3 linked regions of the Homo sapiens genome follow. The protein of the gene in region 1 interacts with the protein of each later gene in a pairwise test. Each region holds a gene or a part of one and is shown on either strand. Other genes may lie near its edges.

Region 1 (7,021 bases):
TGTTGGCTATTCCAGTGCCAAATCCTTCCCTCCCTTTGCCTTCTTTGCAACAAATGATTCCTTTTGTTTTTAAAACATTTTCTTTTGCTCTCTCTTTGTTTTTTGAGACAGGGTCTTGCTCTGTTGCTCAGGCTGAAGTGCAGTGGCATGATCATGGCTCACTGTAGCCTCGACCTCCTAGGCTCAAGTCACCCTCCTGCCTCAGCCTCCTGAGTAGATGGGACTACAGGTGTGCACCGCCACACCTGGCTCATGATTTTTTAGTGGAGACAGAGTCTCACTATGTTGCCCAGGCTGGTCTCCAGCTCGTGGGCTCAGGCAATCCACCTCCCTCGGCATCCCTAAGTGCTGGGATTACAGGCGTGAGCCACCATACCTGGCCTGCAACAAGTGATTTTTTCAATTAATCAAAATACAAAGTGAGGAGGGGGAATCCTGCAGGTTATGAGACCAAGGTCTTACCAGCTGTAGATTTCAAAATTTACAGATTGATCATGCCTTTGCTTAGGTCTTTCTTCAAAAACTATTACAAAACAATGACTCAGGATTTGCTGGGACCAGGCTGGGCATGGTGGCTCATGCCTGTAATCCCAGCACTTTAGGAAGCTGAGGCAGATGGATCATTTGAGGTCAGGAGTTCGAGACCAGCCTAACCAACATGGCGAAACCCCATCTCTACTAAAAATACAAAAATTAGTAGGGCGTGGTGGCGGGCACCTGTAATCCCAGCTGCTCAGGAGGCAGGAGATTCGCTTGAACCCAGGAGGCGGAGGTTGCAGTGAGCTGAGATTGTGTTGCTGCACTCCAGCCTGAGCGACAGAGCAAGACTCTGTCTCAAAAAAAAAAAAAAAAAAGGATTTGCTTGAGACCATACCTGCAAAATGTTCAGAGCCCTACGCATGTCTCCACTGGAAAGAGTGACTAGTGCTTTCATTCCATCTTCACTTATATCAACTCTGAAAGAAATAAGCAAAAGGGATTTATGAGGCCCCCTGAGAGCACCAGCATTCACCAAAGGAACAAGATGGCCTGGAATGATTAAGGCTTTAAAGGGATGAAGGAAGGAGAGGAACAGAGTTAATAATCTCCTGATCTATATGATCTAGAATTCACTCTGGTTTTTAGGGACCTGGGCTTCACATTAGTAGTCACAGCCAACCAAAATCGAGAACAGCCTGAATTTAGGAACAAGCATTCTCCCATGGAGCCAGTCGTCTTGAATTCTGCTCTCTGGGGAGGACAGAGGCCTGGCACAAGCCATGATCACACAGCCGAAACTCCTCCTTCACAACAAGCAGCTGCTCAGGTCGGCTACTTGCTTGGCATCTGACTACACAGAATGTGATGTCTTAGAACCTTCCCTTCTAGTCTAAAAAGGCTGGAAGCATCTTTGCAGAAGGGACTCAGCAGCCTGCAGTTTCCAATGACAAAGAAGAGTAGGAGGAAATTGGGACAGCTTCCAGGGGAGGAGGATGGAATCAAGAAAAATGAAGTACCAAATGACTTTTATGAGGAATGGCCTTGAGACAGCAGAGAAAATGATAGCAGTGGACGGTCCCCAGTGCCTCCCCTGTGCTAGGCACTCTGCAAAGTCGTTTTCCAACATTCCTCTCCTCTACATACGAACCAGCCAGTGATCCCACAAGCCTGTTTCTACTACACTCCATCCCCAAAGGCCCGCAAAATACTCACTTCTCTTCTTCCACGACATGTTCCAGGCGGGGAACCATGAGTTCAGGAGTCAGGGGACCGAACCGAAACCTCGTGCAGCGGGACTGCAAGGCAGGGATGATCTTTGACAGATAGTTACAGATGAGGCAGAATCTGGTATTTTCTGTGAATTTCTCAATTACTAGTAAGAGAAAATAAAACCACCTCATGTCAAAGTCCATTCTGATTTTTCAGAGAGCCCAGAAAACTTGAATTTTTCTGTGGTCACAAGGGTATAGGAAAAGATTCAATACTGCAAACAAGTGAGGATGTTGGCCGGGCGTAGTGGCTTAGTGGCTCACGTCTGTAATCCCAGCACTTTGGGAGGCTGAGGCGGGAGGATCACTTGAGGTCAGGAGGTTTGGCCAACATGGCAAAACCTCTACTGAAAATACAAAATTTAGCCAGGTGTGGTGGCACATGCCTGTAATCCCAGCTACTTGGGAGGCTGAGGCAGGAGAATTGCTTGAATCCGGGAGGTGGAGGTTGCAGTGACCCAAAATCATTCCACTGCACTCCAGCGTGGGCAACAGAGTGAGACTCTGTCTCAAAAAAGAAAGAATGTAAACAAGTGAGGCTGCAGCCTATGACAAGACAGGGCAGTGCTGGCCTGTTCAGATCAGAGATTAGCCACTCCTCTTTTTTCTTTTTTGAAACAGAGTCTCGCTCTGTTGCCCAGGCTGGAGTGCAATGGCACGATCTTGGCTCCCTGCAACCTCTGCCTCCCGGATTAAAGCGATTCTCCTGCCTCAGCCTCCTGAGTAGCTGGGACTACAGACACGTGCCACCACGCCCGGCTAATTTTTTATATTTTTAGTAGAGACGGGGTTTCACCATGTTAGCCAGGATGGTCTCGATCTCCTGACCTCATGATTCGCCCGCCTTGGCCTTTGGGATTACAGGCATGAGCCACTGTGCCAGGCCAATTTTTGTATTTTTAGTAGAGATGGGGTTTCATCGGTTAGCCAGGCTGGTCTCGAACTCCTGACCTCAGGTGATATGCCTGCCTCAGCCTCCCAAAGTACTGGGATTACAGGTGTGAGCCACTGCGCCCTGCCTAGCCACCCCTCTTTCACAAACTGGTAAACATGCCTCCGTGGGATTTTACAAAATGCTTCCTTTTTACCATTTGCCATGATTCTGGCACTTTTGCCATGTAATCCCATTAAGACTATGAGACTTCTTGTCCTTTTACATAAAATTATATTTGGCAGGTTGATGACACTTCACCTTCTATGGGCAGGGAGGGCGGCTTTTTGCAGACTTTTCCATGGAGACTGTCTGGAGGCCTTAGAGCACTCAAGGGAGCAATAACCCGAACAAAGAGTTGCTTATGACACCGGTTCCATTCTGTAGGTACCCAATGTTCTCACATGGGGATCTGCCCAGAATGACAGTCACTCGGCAGAACAAGATGCCGAAGAAAGGCTGCCAAGCTTCTAGGACCAGAAGATATTCTCGCTGTCCTCCTCCTCCTCCTCCTCCCCCACCTCTCCTCCTCCACCTCCCCCTACCCTCCTCCTCCGCCTTCTCCTCCCCCTCCTCCTCCTCACCCCCTCCTCTTCCTCCCCTCCTCCCCCCTCCTCCTCCTCCCCCTTCCCCCATCCTTCTCTTAACATGTGCTGCCATCTACTCCCTCGCCACAAACTCCTAAAGATCGTTCTTCTCTCAAAGCTGATTCACTTGGAATCTTAATGAGAGATGACAAGTGTCCTTTAAGAGAAAAGAACTGCGCTAGGCCCCTGAAGACAGACAAATCGCAGGGTGCTGTCCCTCCCGCTGCCAAATCATTCACTTGGCAAGCAGTGAAGTAATATCAGCTCTCTGAGCACCTCAACTTCAGATATGCTTTTCCTAGCCATTGTGGTTCAAAGGGTACCATTAGTAGAAAGGAGAGGGTACTATTAGCAGAAGGACTATCTGATAGCTTAAGGATGAAAGATTTTCCACACCCCATCCCACGGAAAGATATGAATTCCCAACTCTGAAATTGAACCCAGTGTCAAAGGAGGTTGAACACCAGTGACTGGCCAGACTTAAAAGTCCCCGCAGGGCTTAGTCCCTAGGCTGCTGAAGGGGAAGTCCCGCTACAGAGGTATCTAGCCTGTGTCATTAGATGGGAGACACAGAGAAAGGCATAGAGATTTCTCTGGGCCAGAAGATGAAAACTGAAAACAAGCCAAGCCATATCTCACATCCTAATTCTCCTGTAATCCCAGCACTTTGGGAAGCTTAAAGTTCCTAATTCTCCTGTAATCCCAGCACTTTGGGAAGCCGAGGCGGGCGGATCACCCAAGGTCAGGAGGTCGAGACCAGCCTGGCCAACATGGTGAAACCCCATCTCTACTAAAAATATAAAAATCAGCCGGGTGTGGTGGTGCATGCCTGTAATCCCAGCTACTCAAGAGGCTGAGGTCAGAGAATCGCTTGAACCCAGGAGGCAGAGGCTGCAGTGAGCCAAGATTGCGCCACTGCACTCCAACCTGGGTGACAGAGCAAGACTCTGACTCAAAAAAAGAAAAAAAAACTCCCCCCCGCCTAAAAAAACAATGACAACAGCAACAAACACAAAGTTCCTAATTCTCCTTCCAGTGTGCACACCAGCCCAAACGCTCCACAGTGCCTCTGCTTACCTCTTCTCAAGGCATTCTGGGCGTCCTGAGTCATGGCGTCTGCTTCATCCAAGATCACTAGCTTAAAGCCTTTCCTAGAAAAACAAATGGTGCTGTCTAAAGATTTCTTCAATCTCATCTCAACATCTGGGCTCAAACCTATATCTTCCCATTGTGCCATCGGGCCCTGTCTCAGAAAGACAATTTCTTCTAGAACTTTGGCCAAGGCAGACATCTTTGGTCACTCAGAGAGGAAATGCCGCATCACTCCTTCAACCCTTGGTGGGAATGGAGGAGACTTCTCTACTTCTGTGCGCTGTGTCCTCTGGCATCTTCACTTTCCTCCACATGGCACCCTACCATGCTACTGCTTTTCCCGTCTCCCTCACTCATGCCTGAGTCCCTCACCCTTTTGCTTTTTTTGAGACTAAGTTTTTGCTCTGTTGCCCAGGCTGGAGTGCAGTGCCGCGATCTTGGCTCGCTGCAACCTCTGCCTCCTGGGTTCAAGCGATTCTCCTGCCTCAGCCTCCTGAGTGGCTGGGATTACAGGCGCCCACCACCATGCCCAGATAATTTTTGTATTTTTAGTAGAGACGAGGTTTCACTATGTTGGCCATGCTGGTCTTGAACCCTTGATCTCAGGTGATCCACCTGCCTAGGCCTCCCAAAGTCCTAGGATTACAGGTGTGAGCCACTGCGCCCGGCCCTCACCCTTTTTCTTTCTTTCTTTTTTTTTTTTTAGCCACCATCCTAGTTGTCCTTCCTGATCTCAATTTATTTTTAAATTCAAACTAGCTCATCCAGTCTTAGGGTAATCTAGCCAGTTCTCAGGAACTAAAAATGAAGTTAATGCTCCCTAAAGAACTTGGTAATGCAGGCTGGGCTCACGTATGTAATCCCAGCAGTTTGGGAGGCTGCGGCGGGCAGATTGCTTGAGCTCAGGAGTTCGAGACCAGCCTAGGCAACATGGCAAAACCCCATGTCTACTAAAAAATACAAAAATTAGTTGGGCGTGATGGCTCACGACTGTAGTCCCAGCTACTTAGGAGGCTGAGGCTGGAAGATCGCTTGAACCCAGGAGGTGGAGGTTGCAGTGAGCCGAGATCATGCTACTGCACTCCAGCCTGTACGATACAGGGCGACCCTGTCTCCAAAAAAAAAAGAAAAAAAAAACAAACTTGCTAATACAAGCGTAGATAACATTTTATTTTAACAGTTGCATTATAACGCTTCTTACTACCATCCCTCTCGTTTATCTCTTTTCCATGGTTGCTTTGGACAAAGTCACTTTTTTTTTCAACCCATATAAACTGGCTAAGGAGAGGATTAAAAAATTAACCCATATCATCTTACTAATCAAAATCAAGGGAGCGAAATTACACAAATAATTCTTACTTAAATATTGTCCTTGTGCTAGCAAAGCTCAGGATCGGTCCTCGAATGATGTCTATTCCTCGGTCATCTGAAGCATTCAGCTAAATGTGGAAGACAGAAGACAAAACAAAAACCATGTTGCTGTGCTATCTGTGAGTTCTTGGTGTTAGTGTATTTCCTCATCAGTCCAGCTCAGCAGGCTAGCTCTCTATGTCTAATGATGGCTAAGAGATCATCATAAAATAAAAAATCAGTTTTACACAAAATTCACTAAATTAATAAAGATGGCTATATTACCCCCACCCTTTGAGGACAATGACTGACATAAATTGGAGAAATAATTAATTGGTATGGTTACACTGAACAGCACCTCTGGTATGAGCAGAATGATACAAATTTCAGCTACCACAATCCTAAGTTACCAAGTTCTTAATAAACTGAAATAAGGACATTAGTAGCAGCAAAGTTCTGAGACCTGCGTCTAAAAAGTAAGTTAAACTTTTCTTGCAATAGACAATACTCAGATTTTTGAATCTAAGTATATTAGTCAAGGTCCCAGCAATATACAGATGGCATACTCAAATGCAGCAATTTGAAGAGAATTAAACAAGATCTTTTTAAAGGTGTGATATAGGAAAACCATGGGGCTATGCAATACCTGTCACCCTTGAGCCTGAAGGGCTTAGTGAAGGGAGTGGCTGTAGGCACCTGGAGAGGGCTGCAGGAAAGGTACCACCTGTGAGATGTACCCTACAGGTGGGCCATGCTGCCAGCCTGTGTCAGCCCCCAGGGAAGGCCCAGGCATCACTCACTTCCTTCCCCCACCCCTGCCAAGGCCCCTATTGGCCAAACCCAACCAGGAGCCAGAGGGTAAGTGAGCTTATAGTCAGTAGGGCTCAGCCTTCCAGGCAGGAATATGGTGGAGAAACGTGGAGAATTGATCTAGAGGGGCCATGGCAGACAGGCAGCAACCAAGTCACCATAAAGTAAGGTTTGGGGAGAAGTTGGCAAGAGCAAAGAAAAAGGTGCCAAACCCTACAACTGCCCTCTAGCTGACCAACGCTAATCCAGACCAAAATGACCATTATAGGAAAAAGGGAATTAAAATATTCAAATTTACTTCTTTCCTAACTGTCCGTGGGGCAACTTACTTTTAAAGTAAAATAAAACCAGCAGAACTGAAATTAAGAGACTGGAGTCTCTTAAGTTATTTGTAGAGTAAGAACAATCTTATTTACCTCCAAGACCATGGAGCCAAATTCTTTGTCTTTATATAGCTGTTTCGCACAGGCTAGGATGGTAGATGTCTTGCCTGTCCCTGGGGG
Region 2 (7,357 bases), on another chromosome or scaffold:
ACATTTCCTATAAATACAATCATATAATATGTGTATGGCCTTGGAACTGGCTTCTTTCACTCAGCACAAGGTTTTCAAGGTTCATTCACGTTGTGGCATGTGCTTCATTCATTTTGATTGCCAAGTAATAGTGGATTGTACCGTGTTTTATTTATCCATTATCATTTGATGGATATTTGGATTGTTTCCACTTTTTTTTTTTTTTTTTTTTTTGAGACGGAGTCTCGCTCTGTCGCCCAGGCTGGAGTGCAGTGGCGGGATCTCGGCTCACTGCAAGCTCCGCCTCCCGTGTTCACGCCATTCTCCTGCCTCAGCCTCCCAAGTAGCTGGGACTACAGGCGCCCGCCACTACGCCCGGCTAATTTTTTGTATTTTTAGTAGAGACGGGGTTTCACCGTTTTAGCCGGGATGGTCTCGATCTCCTGACCTCGTGATCCGCCCGCCTCGGCCTCCCAAAGTGCTGGGATTACAGGCGTGAGCCACCGCGCCCGGCCTTGTTTCCACTTTTTAGCTGTTGTGAATAATGCTACTATGAACATTTGTGTACAAATTTTTGTGTATGTATGCTTTTATTTCTCCTGAGTATATACCTAGGAGTAGAATTGCTGGGTCATCTGGCAACTCTATGTTTTAAATTTTGAGGAAATGCCATACTGGTTTTCAAAGCAGCGGCACCATTTTACATTTCCACCAGCAATGTATGAAGGATCCAATTTCTCCATATCCTTACCAATGCTGGTTATTGCCTATCTTTTTTATTATAACCATCTTAGTGGGTATGAAGTGGTATCTCATTGTGGCTTTGCATTTCCTTCATTGCTAATGATGTTGAGCATCTTGGCCATGTGTATATCTATCTTCTTTGAAGAAATGTCTATCCAGATCCCTTGGCCTTTTTTTTTTTTTTTTTTTTTTTTTTTTTTTTTGAGACTGGGTCTCGCTCTGTCGCCCAGGCTGGAGTGCAGTGGTGTGATCTTGGTTCACCGCAACCTCTGCCTCCCAGGTTCAAACAATCCTCCCACCTCAGCCTCCCCAGTAGCTGGGACTACAGGCCCATGCCATCATGCCCAGTTAACTTTTTGTATTTTTAGTAGAGTCAGGGTTTTGCCATGTTGCCCAGGCTCCTTGCCCATTTTTTATTATTTGTCTCTTTATTATAGAGTTGTAAGAGTTCCTTATATATTCTAGATATAAGTCCCTTACCAGGAATATGATTTGCAAATATTTCCTCCCGTTCTGTGGGATATTGTATTATTTTGCCAAGGCTGCCATAACATAATACTATAGACTGGGTGGCTTAAACAACAGAAATTGGCTGGGTGCGGTGGCTCACACCTGTAATCCCAGCACTTTGGGAGGCCGAGGTGGGTGGATCACTTGAGGTCAGGAGTTTGAGACCAGCCTGGCCAACATGGTGAAACCCTTACTCTACTAAAAATACAAAAATTAGCCGAGCGTGGGGGCATGCACCTGTAATCCCAGCTTCTCAGGAGGCTGAGGCAGGAGAATCGCTTGAACCTGGGAGGTGGAGGTTGCAGTAAGCCAAGATCGTGCCACTGCACTCCACCCTGGGCAGCAGAGTGAAACTCTATGTCAAAAAAACAAAACAAAACAAACCCCCAGAAATTTATTCCTCACAATTCTGAAGGCTACAATTCTGAGATCAAGGTGTTGGCAGGTCTGGTCCCCCAGCCCTGAGTCCTCTCTCCTTGGTTTGTAATTAACCTTCTTCTCCCTGTGCCTTCCTCTGGTCTTTCCTCTGTGTGGCGCATCTCTAGTGTCTCTTCTTATGAGGACACCAGTCATTGGATGAGGGCCCCATCCAAGGGCCTCAGTTTAAGATGATCACCTCTTTAAAGACCTTATCTCCATCCACAGTTACATTCTGAGGTTCTGAGACTGTAACCAGTACAGTTCAGCATATGAATGGGGGTGAGGGGGCACACAATTCAGCTTATAACAGTTATTTTTTCACTCTCTTTTTGTTCTTTTTATGTTTAATTTTTTTTTTTTTTTTTTTTTAGAGACAGGGTCTTGCTCTGTCACCCAGGCGGGAGTACAGTAGCACCATCATAGCTCACTGCAGCCTTGAACTCCTAGGCAAAAGCAATCCTCTTAAATAGCTAGGACTACAATCATGAACCACTACGTCTGCCTAATTTTAAAAGAATTTGTAGAGACAGAGTTTCACTATGTTGCCCTGGCTGGTCTTGAGCTCCTGGCCTCAAGTAATCCTCCTATCTCCACCTCCCAAAATGCTGGGATTATAGGTGTGAGCCACCAGGCCCAGCCATAACTTTTCACTTTCTTGATGATACCCCTGAAAGCACAAAAGTTTTTAATTTATCTATTTTTTTTTCTTTTGTTGCTTGTGCTAATATCTAAGCAACTACTGTTTAATCCAAAGTCATGAAGATTTAGGCTTATGTTTTCTTCAGAGAGTTTTATAGTTTTAGCTCTTACATTTAGATCTATATGTTGCATATAGTATGAAGCAGGGATCCAAATTCATTCTTTTGCATGTGGATATCCAGTTGTCCCAGCACCATTTTTTGAAAACACTATTCTTTCCCCATTAAATTGTCTTGGCACTCTTGTTGAAAATCAATTGGCAGTAAGTGTAAGGGCTTCTGTCTGGACTCTCAGTTTTATTCCATTGGTCTGTATGCCCATCCTTATACCCGTACCACCCTGCCTTGATGACTGAAGTTTCCTAGTAAGTTTTGAAATCAGGACTTGTGAGTCCCCCAACTTATTCTGAATTTACTTTAACTTTTGATACCGAACACAGTGTGAGAGGTGAATGAACAGCATGACATTGGAGTTGGGAGCCCCCTCCCTCCAAAGGCCTTATTTTAGGAACACAGGCCCCAAGTGCCACACAAGCCTTGGAGAGATGGGTTCCCATCCTCTCAGCCCATGGCTCTTCATTATCAATCAATGGAAACATTCTTCGGAGAACAATGATTCCCTTGGGTTATTTTAAACATGGCTTTAAGTCTTCCCCACATGCTCTACTGTCTAATTGCTTTTCCTGAAACAGTGTCATTCACAACTGGATTATTAATGAACTGAGAGGGAGCCAGGGAGCCAATGAAGGGGGCTTACAGAGTTCCTGGAGAGGGCCTGGGGGCCTGGAACAAGTTCAACCCACAGATTTTCTCTCCCCCAAGAAAGGTGACTGAGCAAACAGAAAATCACTAAACTCAGGTGATGCTGGTGGCCTCAAAAGAATATTGCCAGTGAAAAAAAAAGGATTCGGGCGAGTTCCTCAAACATGACAGCTGAGAATCAAATTAACTGGGTACCATCCCCAAACTCCCCAAACTTAAACTCTGAATTTCCCCAGCTGGCTGGCCCTGGGGTGCCTAGGGCTCTCATCTGTAGGCCGGGAAAGCTCAGGAAACAAGGCCTTTGTGGAGAAGAGAAACCTATTGTTCTAAGGCCAGGGTTCAGCAAATGTGGATTCCAGAGAATGTTTGGGGAGGTTTTCTCTGCTTTGTTTATGAACTTTCTTTTCTCTTCCTGGGGTGGTGATGGTGGGGGGTGACTCTCAGCAACTTAAATAGTTAAACCCATTGTGTTGTAAAGAAAGGCTGGTGCACAGAGTGCAGAGGCCTTCAGCCCCAGAAAGAGGCTTGAATGAGGTGACAGAAGCCACCGGGTATGTTTTGCTTTTTATTTTTAGCGTTAAATCTCAGGGAAGCAGCCCCTATCTTCATCCTGCACATCTCAAAGGGCGTCAGACGTCAGCAGAGGTACGACCACTTCCTTCCTCCAGCGCTTCACCTCCCTTCTTTCCAGAAAGAGGAAATGATGCGAGTCCACACCGCAGGCCACAGCCCCCATGTCTCGGCCCCAGCAGCTGGGGGACCTGGCCCCACAGATCTGTCCCCAGCGCAAGGCCAGGGCCGGCCCCTGGACCTCCTGGGAAGCCTTCAGACTCAGGCCGCGCAGGCCTTCAAGCTAGGAACCCTGAGTTCCTGGCCCTGGCATTCATTCTGTGTGACCTTGAGCAGGTTACCACTCCTCTCTGGGCTTCAGGATTCCCGTCTGTCAAATGGGAGCAGGGATACCGTCCTTGGCTTCCCTCTTTCCATGGTCGGGGTGGGGGTTAGGAAAACTATTTTGGAGGAGGGGGCAGCGTTAGGAAAACTATTCCGAAGCCTGGCCACGTCCCAACCGGTTTCAACTTCCTGCAGCTCAGAAGAGGGGTCCCCACCCGAGAGCGCCGGGACCCTGTCCCGCGCTGCCTCCCAAGCCGGATGGGGTTGAGCGCGCCCACCCCAGTCCCAGGAGCTCAGGCCCCGCCTTGGGGGAGGAGCCGAGAGGCGGCGCGGAGGCTCGCGGCCGAGCAGAGCCAGCTCTGTCGCCGCTGGAGCAGCTGCGGCTCGGGGACCCACAGACACAGCCGGGGTCGGGAGCCGCCCGGGGCAGGGCTCGGGAGAGCGGGTGAGTTCCCCGGCGGCGCCACCACCCTCCTTGCGCTCTGCGGCTTCGCAGGGCGGGGGATGAGGATGGGGCGGGGAGGTGGTCCCAGCCTGCTATCACCTAGCTGGGGGCCGGGGCGCTTTGGCCAAGGGACGATAGCTTGAGATAAATGGGAGTGTGGGGACTCTGGAAAGACGGGTACCGAGAGCGCTAGGTCCGGGAGTCGGGCTGGAATGGGGGCGTTCTCCCCGGCCTCGCAATTCCTTGACGAGGCCAGGGGAGGGGGCGCATTGGCAGGTTGTTGGCTGCGGCCGTCGTAGACCGATCTTGGGGCGGGGAGGTGGGGTCCTCGGTCTGTTCTGGACTCATGGGGCCGCCGTCTGCCGGGGGTGCAATGCCGGGCGGCGGGAGCCACAGCGGACACCAAACAACCCCCCCCCGCGCACTCTCCCGGCCGGGCATGGTGGTGCCGCCCCCTCGCGTGGCGGGGCTTGGTCCTGGCGGGCAGCGGCAGGGCGCAGAGAGCGCTCCTGCCCGGGCGGGAAAGATCCCCAAGGCAGGCGCCTCCACCTGCAGACCCGCCCCGCCTCAGGATCCGGCTGACAGCACCAGCCAGCCCGGGGAGACCCCGCGAGTGGTAGTTCCCCGGGAGGGGCGCGCCCGGCCTCTCCCAGGGCCCCGTGCGCCGGCGGCTGGGTCCCCCGCGCCAGGAGCGCTCCCCTCTGGGCGACTCCGGCTCATCGATTCCGGCCCAGAGGAGCGCCCCCGGGCGCCGAGGATGGGCGGAGACGTGCAGCCGCCCCTGAGAGGTCGCCCAGAGGGGTCTCCCCAAGGTCACCCGGAGTGCCCAGGCTGAGCTGCCCAGACCGCCCCGGGTGGAGAGCCGGGAGGCAGGCGCTCGCTGCCCTCCTCCTTCCCCCATGTAGACTCCCTTCCTCCGCTCCCCCACCCCGGCCCGGCCTCCAGCTTCACTGGAGATGCTGATGATGCAGCTCCCAGCCCTTGGAGGATAATTGAGCCTGGGAGAGCTTTGAATCTGGCCCTCCTGAGACCCCAGGGCTGCGCCGCTGCCGCGCGCCAGGCCTGGGTCCCGGTGCTCCCGGGCACCTCAGGAGCGGAGGGAGAGGGATGTGGCTTCATCAGCGCTTCTAGGAACCGAAAACCGAGCTGCCTGCGCGCCCATGTGATTGCATTTCACATAAAGGGCCCCTGTTTTCACTGTCAGAAGAGCCCCCCAGCTCTCCGCGGCTCTGGACACCAGGTGCCGCCTCTGAATCACCCTCTGTGGAGGACCCGGGGCCCGGAGGTACAGGCGCCCTTTCCCGCAGGGCTCTCCCTGGAAAGGGCCTGCCGATGGCGGCCTCAGTCCGCAGGGGTACTTCCCTGTGTACCCTGCCATTTCCTGCGGCTGGTGAAGCACCGGAGAAAAACCGTCCATCTAGGAGGCCTCCTCCAAGGCTGGTAATAAAGCTTCTTAGCCCAGCCAGCGACTAGCTGTCTACTCGTGGGCAAGGTACTTGGCTTCTGGAGTCTCAACTGCCTCTAAGATACGGGGCTAACAGCCGCCAGGCTGTGGGGAGATGAGGGAGAGGCTGGGTGCAGCAGAGCGGGAGGATGAACACTCCTTGGCCAATACTGGCCGCCCTCGGGATTGGCTTTGAGTGGGGCGTGTCTCTCTTAGACAGGTGCAGAAGTGGAGCCCTGGTGGGTGGTTCTGCAGGGGCTGGGGGAGTTTCCACATCTTCCTCCCCCAGCTCTGTCATAAAAAGCCAGCTTGCAGGAGGCCGGTGGGGGCCAGCAAATCCTTCCAGCCGGCTGCCTGCTCACACGGCCCTTCCCACACAAATCTCCCATGCCCTTCTCTCCCACCTGTCACCCAAATCCCATCTTCCTGGCTGAGTCCCCAGGATGCTGGGGGCAAGATGTCAACCAGGCCACCCTGGACTGTCAACTCTGTGCCTACTTGTCTACTGGGGTCTACCTAACAGTGTTCCCCTGTCCTGGAACCTTCCTGGCTCCAGCTCTTCCCAGCCTCTGTAATGTCTTCTTTCCCCTCTTTTGGTCTCCTACCACCGTGACACTCATTAGTGGCTCTGTGGTTCATGTGTCAAGGGCCCCGTGCCATCTGTGCTCTCCAGATCATCCATGGCCTAGAAAGACACGGTAGGCAAGGCCCTGTGCCCACTCAGACTTTGCTCTCCCTGGTAATTGACGGAGTGGAGGTTAAATTCTAATCTAGCTGTTAAGTCATTTCAGGAGCTTGAGCCACAGGGCTAAGAGGATACTGATGTAGGCAGGTGGTTTTTCCTTAAAGCCAGAACCTTTCTCCTTTCTGCAGAGCCCATTTGAGCCCTTTGGAAACTAGGCCTATGTGTGATGGCCTCACAGAATCCTCACAACCCCGTGAAGTAGGCATTACTGATTCCCATTTTGCAGATGGGAAAACTGGGGCTCAGCTCCTCTCAAAACCAGCTCCATGCCCCAAGTGTAGCAACAGAGGCTGCAGCCAACCTGGTTTAGGAGAAGGCAGAAGGCACATACCTGAATTCAGGTGCTGTGCTTGGACTCTTGGGACCCCATCCCCCCAACCTTTCCCTCCCCTCTCCCAACCTAGCCACCACCCCTCCTGCACCCAGGACTCTTGTCACATTTGTTGACCAGGAGGTCCCAACTGGCACTCTTCCAGCAGAGACCAGGAAAACCTTCACTGTCCTGAGTGCATCTTAGCAATTGGGCTTCAAGAAGGGCTCGGACAAGCCTGCCTCTTACAGAAAGCTACGAGTATGAAGAGTGAGGGAGCCAGAGAGGTCTAATTTTAATTAGGGATCTATACCTAAAAGCTCTGTGACCCTGTATACATGACTTAATCTCTCTGAGTCTGGTTTTCTCATTTGTAAAATAGGTATCACAGTAATGCCTACTTTGT
Region 3 (7,336 bases), on another chromosome or scaffold:
ATGTGTTTGAGGCTAAAAGTTGCCTCTGAATTCATCTTTGATTGAATTCTCATTTATTTATAAATAATTGTGTATAACTGGAATTTTTTCTTTGCCCCAAGGGTTAAGGTGTTTTTGTTTTTTTTTTAATTTTAATTTTTATTTCTTTAAGAGACAGGGTCTCACTGTGTTGCCTGGGCTGGAGTGCAGTGGCTATTCACAGATGTGATCATAGCGCCGCCCTACAGCTTCAAATTTCTGGGCTCAAGCCATCCTCCCGCCTCAGCTTCCCAAGCAGCTGGGATTACAGGAATGCACCACCACGCCCAGCTCAAGGGAGTATTTTTAAATGTCTAAGTGTTAGGTTGGTTGTTTGTTTAGCCTATTTTAAAATTTTAAAATTGTGTTTGTGTGAGGAAATGTGGTTTATTGTGCTTCTTGGAATTTTTGAGATTTTTCTTCATGGCCTATTATAAGATCAGTTGTTTTTGTTTAGATCTTCATTGTGGTATTTATTTTATTCTGCCTTTCTCTGTACCTCTGTCTCTTCTTTAAAGTGGTTCGATCACTGAGGTCAGGCATTGTCTGTATTGATCTATAAGGCAACTGCCTAGTAGAAATATTTAATAAGTAGGCTGAATAAATGAATATTGATCCTTGTGGATTTGAGGAGTGTTATATACATAAAAAATCCAGGCCAGGTGCGGTGGCTCACGCCTGTAATTCCAGCACTTTGGGAGGCTGAGGAGGGTGGATCGCTTTAACCCAGGAGTTCAAGACCAGCTTGGACATGGTGAAACCCTATCTCTATAAAAAAAAAAAAATACAAAAATTAGCCGGGTGTGGTGGCATGCACCTGTAGTCCCAGCTACTCTGGAGGCTGAGGTGGGAGGATCACTTGAGCCCAGGAAGCGAAGGTTGTAGTGAGCTGAGATTATGCCACTGCACTCCAGCTTAGGTGACAGAGTGAGACCCTATCTCAAAAAAAGAAAAAAACCAAAAAGGTAGAAAAAGGTAGAATAGAGACCAGGCCATTTCCTTTCCTTCGATCCCTCCAAATACCATGATTCCTTGTCATTTCTACTTGGATTCCCTCCACCACACCTCTTTGGACCTCAAAAGCATAGATTTCAATTGTCATAATCTTTGGTTTGGCACATTCTCATCATTAGTTCATACTTTGTTATAATGTATGCATTATAAGCATTTTTTTTTTTTTGATACAGAGTCATGCTCTGTCACCCAGGCTGGAGTGCAGTGGCATGATCTCGGCTCACTGCAACCTCTGCCTCCTGGTTCAAGTGATTCTTCTGCCTCAGCCTCCCAAGTAGCTGGGATTACAGGTGTGTGCCACCACACCTGGCTAATTTTTGTATGTTTAGTAGAGATGGGGTTTTGCCATATTGGCCAGGCTGGTCTCGAATTCCTGACCTCAAGTAATCTGCCCACCTTGGCCTCCCCAGGTGTTGGGATTACAGGCATGAGACACTGCACCTGGCCCATTATAAGCATTTTTGAAAACATCATCCCAAACAAAAACTGAAACTTTGACAATAACATACATCTAACTATGTGGTTCCCCCTTTCCCACCCCTTTTGTTTCTCACCATCTGAGGTGAGCATTTGAAACCCATTTTTATCATTCCCTTGCTTTCCTTTTTATGCAGTTTTATGCATCTGCATGTATTTTTCAAACTAAAAAAGGTTTTGTGTTGCATGTAATCTTTTGGAGTTTATTCAATTCTTGTTTCAATTTTGGTGGACTGTTGATTTCAGGAATTTTTTCAAAGGTCCTGTGATTTTCTTTTATTCATCCTTGCAGAGGGGATTTATGCTTGCCTAGGGTTGACATACAATCAAATGATTGATTTGGGATCTGTATGAAATTTTATAGCAGTTCCTGGTCAGAATCAAAGGCAGAACAGAAGGCTATAGGCTGCCATTGTGGGGACCCAGCAGGCTGTGTGGACTGAGTGGGGCGCTGTCTCCAGTTAAACATTTTCTCTCCACTGCCACATCCAACACTGGCCACTGGGTGTGGCAGCTCCCATCAGAGCAAGTTGTGGTCATGTTTCTGTGATGTCTGTCCCTGGAAGGAGGCACAGAGGCAGCAAGCATTCCTGTGGTGCCTCAGCTGGCCCCGTCACTCCTTTCTCAGATTAGAACACCCTTCAGGGATCTAGAAATATTCTTTATTCAGATGGAAACAATCATAGTAACAGGCCATTCTACCAATTGGATAGAGCTGTTTCTTCATAAGCCATAAACCTAAGACTAATCCTAATCTGTTTCCTAACTTGTGTTTTAACGCATACCCGGATTCTAACTGCCATGGTCTTTTCTGCAGAATGTGTTCTAGTCCCTACATCCTAATTTATACCCCAACTTCCATTCAAACCTTTCCCTTTTTCAATTTCATGAACCTTTCCCCTGAACCTCTAACATCTGTGACTGCTCCCAGCTCCTTTCCTTCCTCCCATTCCTGCCAAATGCTAGCCGTGAATTGCTGTTTAGTTAGCACTTACCGTAAGCTAGACGCTGGGGTCATTGCTCATTGTGTATCATCTCAGCTAGCTGATATCCTACTCTATGAGATGGTAACATTAGTTTTTCCATTTTACAGATGAGAAAACTGAGGCTCAATGAGATGAATTTGGACAAAGTCTATATCTCTGGTGAAGCTAGGATTTGATCTAGTGGTGTTTTTTTGTTTTGTTTTGTTTTTGAGACGGAGTCTCACTCTGTTGCCCAAGCTGGAGTGCAATGTGCGATCTCAGCTCACTGCAAGCTCCACCTCCTGGGTTCATGTGATTCTCCTGCCTCAACCTCCTGAGTAGCTGGGACTACAGGTGCCCACCACCACGCTTGGCTAATTTTTGTATTTTTAGTAGAGACAGGATTTCACTATGTTGGCCAGGCTGGTCTCGAACTCATGACCTTGTGATCCTCCTGCCTCGGCCTCCCAAAGTGCTGGGATTAAGGGTGTGAGCCACCGTGCCTGGCTGTTTTGTTTTTTAAAGTTATGATGCCTTTGGCTGTAAGTGAAAGAAAACTTAAAGTGGCCTTAATAATGAAATTTACTATTTGACATAAAAAGGCTGATTAATTCCATGGCTCTACATTACCCTCAGGACCCTGGCCTTTCTCCTCTACCATCCATCCTTGATGTGTCCAGGACTTGTCTTCAGGTTAGCTTTCCACAAGGCTTCCACATGCCTGCCAGCATTCCAGCCTCACATCCCCCAAAAGTCTAGGGGCAGGAATGGACATCGTTTCGTCTTGCGCATCTCTGTCTCTCTCACTTGCTCTAATTTGATGTGAATCTTTTCTTTAAGAGCAAAGAAACTTTTCCCAGGACCCTCCCCTGCCCCAGCAGATTTCCCCTCATATTATCCAGAATGCTGGAAGCCCGTGCCTAAGCGGTCATGGGGAAGGAGCATGGGACCACGCTTAGACTAATCCAGCTCATTCCTCCAGGCTGGCTCTCCAAGCCTCCCTGATGCAGTTTCTGGCTCCTCGGAAGAAAGGAGATGGGGGTCAGGAATAGGTATAAGCTGTGATAGTGTCTGTCACAGAATCCCAAGTCTGGTTGTTAAGCTTGACACACTGCTGCTATTCTGGGCTTGCCCCTCGGCTCCCATCCTCACTCTAACATATTTCCTCAGCTGTGAGGTAAGTCCCCACAACTCTAAATGACACATTCTAAGGCTGTCCTTGGCAGAACAGTGAGGAACATGAAATGTGTGCCTTGGAGCCCAGTGCTCTTATGTAATTCCCCTGGGATGTCAGTGCCGTCCTTGGTCAGCGCAGGCATGGTCACTGGAGGTGGGGAGAAGAGCAGAGCTCTGCCTCAGAAACGTGGGCCCTGAGCCCTCAGCCTGGCCCTGACCCAGCCCCAGAACTTTTTGTTTTGTTTTGTTTTTTGAGGTGGGGTCTGGCTGTGTTGCCCAGTTTGGACTGAAACTCCCGGACCCAAGTGATCCTCCCACCTCAGCCTCCTCAGTACGTTGATGTGAGCGTGGCTGCACCCGGCCCAGAGTTGGGTTTTAAACATGTTTCCCCGTCCTCTGAGATCTCATCTTCCTGGTCTGTGCTTTTTCTTCTCTTAGAATCCGAATTTTTTATTTTATTTTATTTTTTTAACAAATTCTAACTTGCTCCCTAGTGTTACCGCCCACACCTACAACAACTTTATCCTGTTTCCTTCCCTCAACCCCCACAGCTTTTCTGGCTCCCATGGAGTGCACACTCGGCCACTGTGGCCGGAGCCTGGCAGAGCCTGGCTCATTTGTTGAATGGATGACTCTGATTATAGCAGGTATTCAGTAAGCCACTCTTGTTAAATTATTGAAAATAAACGATGTTACTCCCTAGAGGTGTCTAGGTTCCTTTTTTTCCCCCATCACCTGTCCTCTTTCACCTCCCCTCTGGGCCCTGGCTTCCCTCAAAGATCCTTTCTCCAGGTCCCCCATCTCCTTTGATGAAGACTCATGAGGAACACAGTGTCCACCTCTCAGGCAGGCGCTCAGGAAGGAAGTCGCTGAGACAGAGCTCAGTGGCCCGAATGGTTTCTGCTCCCTCACCTCCCACGTCCCACCTCCCACGTCCCACCTCAGGGCTTCCTTCGGTTCGGGCCCTGCCCCACGAGCAGGACCACCTTTGTCCTGGACAGACAGACCTGCTAGCCTCTGCTCTACAGTTCTGCCGGCCTTCGCCCTGGCTGTCCTCACACGAGTGCCCCCTCCCTTCTCTCCTCCCTTAGCCCCGCCTCCTTCCTCTAGCCCCACAGCCCTGGACACGGTACACACAGACCAGAGCCTTGGCTCAAAGGCAAACAAAAGGAAATGCCCGGCTCCCCATGGCTGTGGCCAGCACCTTCATACCAGGGCTCAACCCTCAGAACCCTCATTATATCCCAGGGTAAGACTCCCACTTAGCGCTCCCCGCTTGCTGCTGGGAGTAGGGGTATAGGGTGGAGGAATTAAGCTGCTTAGAGCATGGGGCCAAGCGGACAGGTTGGTTTGGGAGGCTGAGGTCTCTATGGTGGTGGATGGAAAAGGAGAAGCAAGGGACTAGTGAGACACCGGGTCTGCCCCAAAGCTTTGTGTTGTTCTCTCCATGGGAACAGGGTAACAGCAGAGGAAGGATCGAAAGCCCAGGCAGAGAACTTAGAAATGCCTGCTCCAAATATATACACTGCTGAGTCCAGAAAGATCAGGGCTTCAGAGGTCTCCGCTTCTGCCTCTGGGGATGGCGGGGCAGGGCGATTCTGGTGAGTGGGAGAGTCTGTGCTGCAGGTACACTGGACACTGCCCACTACTTCGGTTCAGCGTGGGCCAGACCTATGGGCAGGTGACTGGTCAGCTACTTCGAGGCCCTCCTGGCCTAGCCTGGCCCCCTGTCCACCGCACACTTCTGCCTCCCATTCGGCCTCCAAGATCTCCTGAGGTTCCCAGGGAGAGTCTACCTGTCAGGCGTGGGCAAGAAAGGCTCAGCTCCAGCATGATCCCTGGGTACACAGGTTTGTACGCAGGTATGCACAGGTGCCCCTCCCAGGAGCATGTGTTCCAAACACTAACGAGTCTTCCTTGTCCCTGCCTGCCCAGGTTTTGTACCCCGGGCACAGTTCATCTTTGCCAAGAACTGCAGCCAGGTCTGGGCCGAGGCTCTGAGTGACTTTACTCACTTGCATGAAAAGCAAGGGAGTGAAGAGCTACCAAAGGAGGCCAAGGGAAGAAAGGACACAGAGAAGGACCAGGTGCCAGAGCCGGAGGGGCAGCTGGAGGAGCCGACACTGGAGGTGGTGGAACAAGTGAGACCAAGAAGCTGGTGGGGAGTGCAGAGGTGTGGGAGTGGGGGTCTTACTGTGTGTCCGGGCAGTGGGGGCAGCATGAGTAGTGTGGCTGTGGGTTCAGGGGATGTGCACTTGATTGTCAGCTCCACCTCCTTGGGAGATTGTGTGACAGCACAGGGGCTTCTCTCACAGGCTTCTCCCTACTCCATGGATGACAGGGACCCTCGGAAGTTCTTCATGTCAGGTGAGAGCTGGGGGGTCAGGATCAGAGGCGTGGGGAGGCCCCAGGATGCCTTGGCTCAGTGTCCCCATCCTCAGGCTTCACTGGCTATGTGCCCTGCGCCCGCTTCCTCTTCGGCTCCAGCTTTCCTGTGCTCACCAACCAGGCACTGCAGGAATTTGGGCAGAAGCACTCACCAGGCAGTGCCCAGGACCCCAAACATCTCCCCCCACTTCCCAGAACATACCCTCAGAACCTGGGTCTTTTACCTAACTATGGGGGCTACGTGCCAGGTGAGAAGAGCCCCCGGGGAGGCTTTGGGGACTGGAATGTTTGTTTGTATGGGTATGGGGTGGGTTGGGTGGTTTGTGGGGGTTGAAACTAATAGATATGGGAGGGCTCAGATCATGTGGTTCAGCTTTATTATCAGGCAGAAAAGGAAACCGAGGTAGCTACCCACAGTGGGGAATTAGGGCCAGATTTTAGAGGGCTGTTTGGAGGTCTAGCCAACTGGCTGAGAATTAAATGGCTTTGCCATGCCACTTGCTACATGTGACAGACTCTCTTGGCCACACAGGGTATAAGTTCCAGTTTGGCCACACATTTGGCCATCTCACCCATGATGCTCTGGGCCTCAGCACCTTCCAGAAGCAGCTCTTGGCTTAGGCCACTGGACATCAAGTTCCCTTCCCTTTTCATCCTATCCCAGCCATCCTTTTGGAAGGGAGAGAGGTGGGTGGGAGGGTGGGAGGGTGGGGGAACACAAAGAGAAAATGGTTTGGAGGCTGAGCACCTTTTTTATTAATAGGTATAATAAATAAATAAATAAATACATAAACAGACGCCTGGGCTCCTCCTCCCTCTTCTGATGACCAGGCACTGGCCACAGCCTATTTACAGCTGGGGGGCTTAGGGATCTGGCCCCAATACTGTTACCCATCCTCATCTCCACCTGGCCTAGGGAACCCTGTAGATGGCTTTCTGGGCCACCCGCCTCCAGGGGGACTTGCTTGTCTTCACCCATGGAAGGGTTGGCCCAGACGGGCCAGGGGAATCCTGGCAGCCCAGTGCTGTGTCCCATCCCTCTCCTGGGTGGAGGTCTGGACAAGGTCACTGGGACAGTTAAGGGGGCGTAATTAATACTGAGCACAGGGAGCAGGTGCCAGCACAGGGATACGTGGCCCCAGCTCTCAGTCTACTCTGCAGCCAAGCCAATGGCTTGGGAAGGGCTCTCGGGCTCTGAGTCTGGGGGTTATGAGGGTCCCTGAGGCCACCAGCATGCACAGGGCCTCAGTTTTGGCTGCTTCCAGGGGTTGGACTTGGAGTTGGGGTCAATGTCACGT

Evidence for each region. The genes of interacting proteins can lie anywhere in the genome.
Region 2: the proteins of RFC5 (region 1) and PPP1R16B interact in binary tests that used the Homo sapiens proteins (3 or more experiments, as listed by UniProt).
Region 3: the proteins of RFC5 (region 1) and CIMIP2B interact in binary tests that used the Homo sapiens proteins (3 or more experiments, as listed by UniProt).

What each region holds. Positions count from the first base shown.
Region 1 is NC_000012.12:118,019,682-118,026,702, reverse strand, and holds part of RFC5 (replication factor C subunit 5), read right to left. Parts: coding exon 6,935-7,021; intron 5,798-6,934; coding exon 5,718-5,797; intron 4,418-5,717; coding exon 4,344-4,417; intron 1,853-4,343; coding exon 1,693-1,852; exon of another isoform or gene 1,689-1,692; intron 957-1,688; coding exon 875-956; intron 1-874. UniProt on the Homo sapiens protein: Subunit of the replication factor C (RFC) complex which acts during elongation of primed DNA templates by DNA polymerases delta and epsilon, and is necessary for ATP-dependent loading of proliferating cell nuclear antigen (PCNA) onto primed DNA.
Region 2 is NC_000020.11:38,801,341-38,808,697, forward strand, and holds the start of PPP1R16B (protein phosphatase 1 regulatory inhibitor subunit 16B isoform 1 precursor), read left to right. Parts: upstream 1-4,356; 5' UTR 4,357-4,452; intron 4,453-7,357. UniProt on the Homo sapiens protein: Regulator of protein phosphatase 1 (PP1) that acts as a positive regulator of pulmonary endothelial cell (EC) barrier function. Involved in the regulation of the PI3K/AKT signaling pathway, angiogenesis and endothelial cell proliferation.
Region 3 is NC_000009.12:35,561,330-35,568,665, reverse strand, and holds CIMIP2B (ciliary microtubule inner protein 2B), read left to right. Parts: upstream 1-4,787; 5' UTR 4,788-4,837; coding exon 4,838-4,899; intron 4,900-5,107; exon of another isoform or gene 5,108-5,229; coding exon of another isoform or gene 5,230-5,276; coding exon 5,277-5,500; intron 5,501-5,585; coding exon 5,586-5,791; coding exon of another isoform or gene 5,792-5,823; intron 5,824-5,965; coding exon 5,966-6,017; intron 6,018-6,091; coding exon 6,092-6,286; intron 6,287-6,570; coding exon 6,571-6,659; coding exon of another isoform or gene 6,660-6,798; 3' UTR 6,799-6,835; downstream 6,836-7,336. Other genes in the region: AP-4 complex accessory subunit RUSC2, read right to left, coding at 7,284-7,336. UniProt on the Homo sapiens protein: Microtubule inner protein (MIP) part of the dynein-decorated doublet microtubules (DMTs) in cilia axoneme, which is required for motile cilia beating.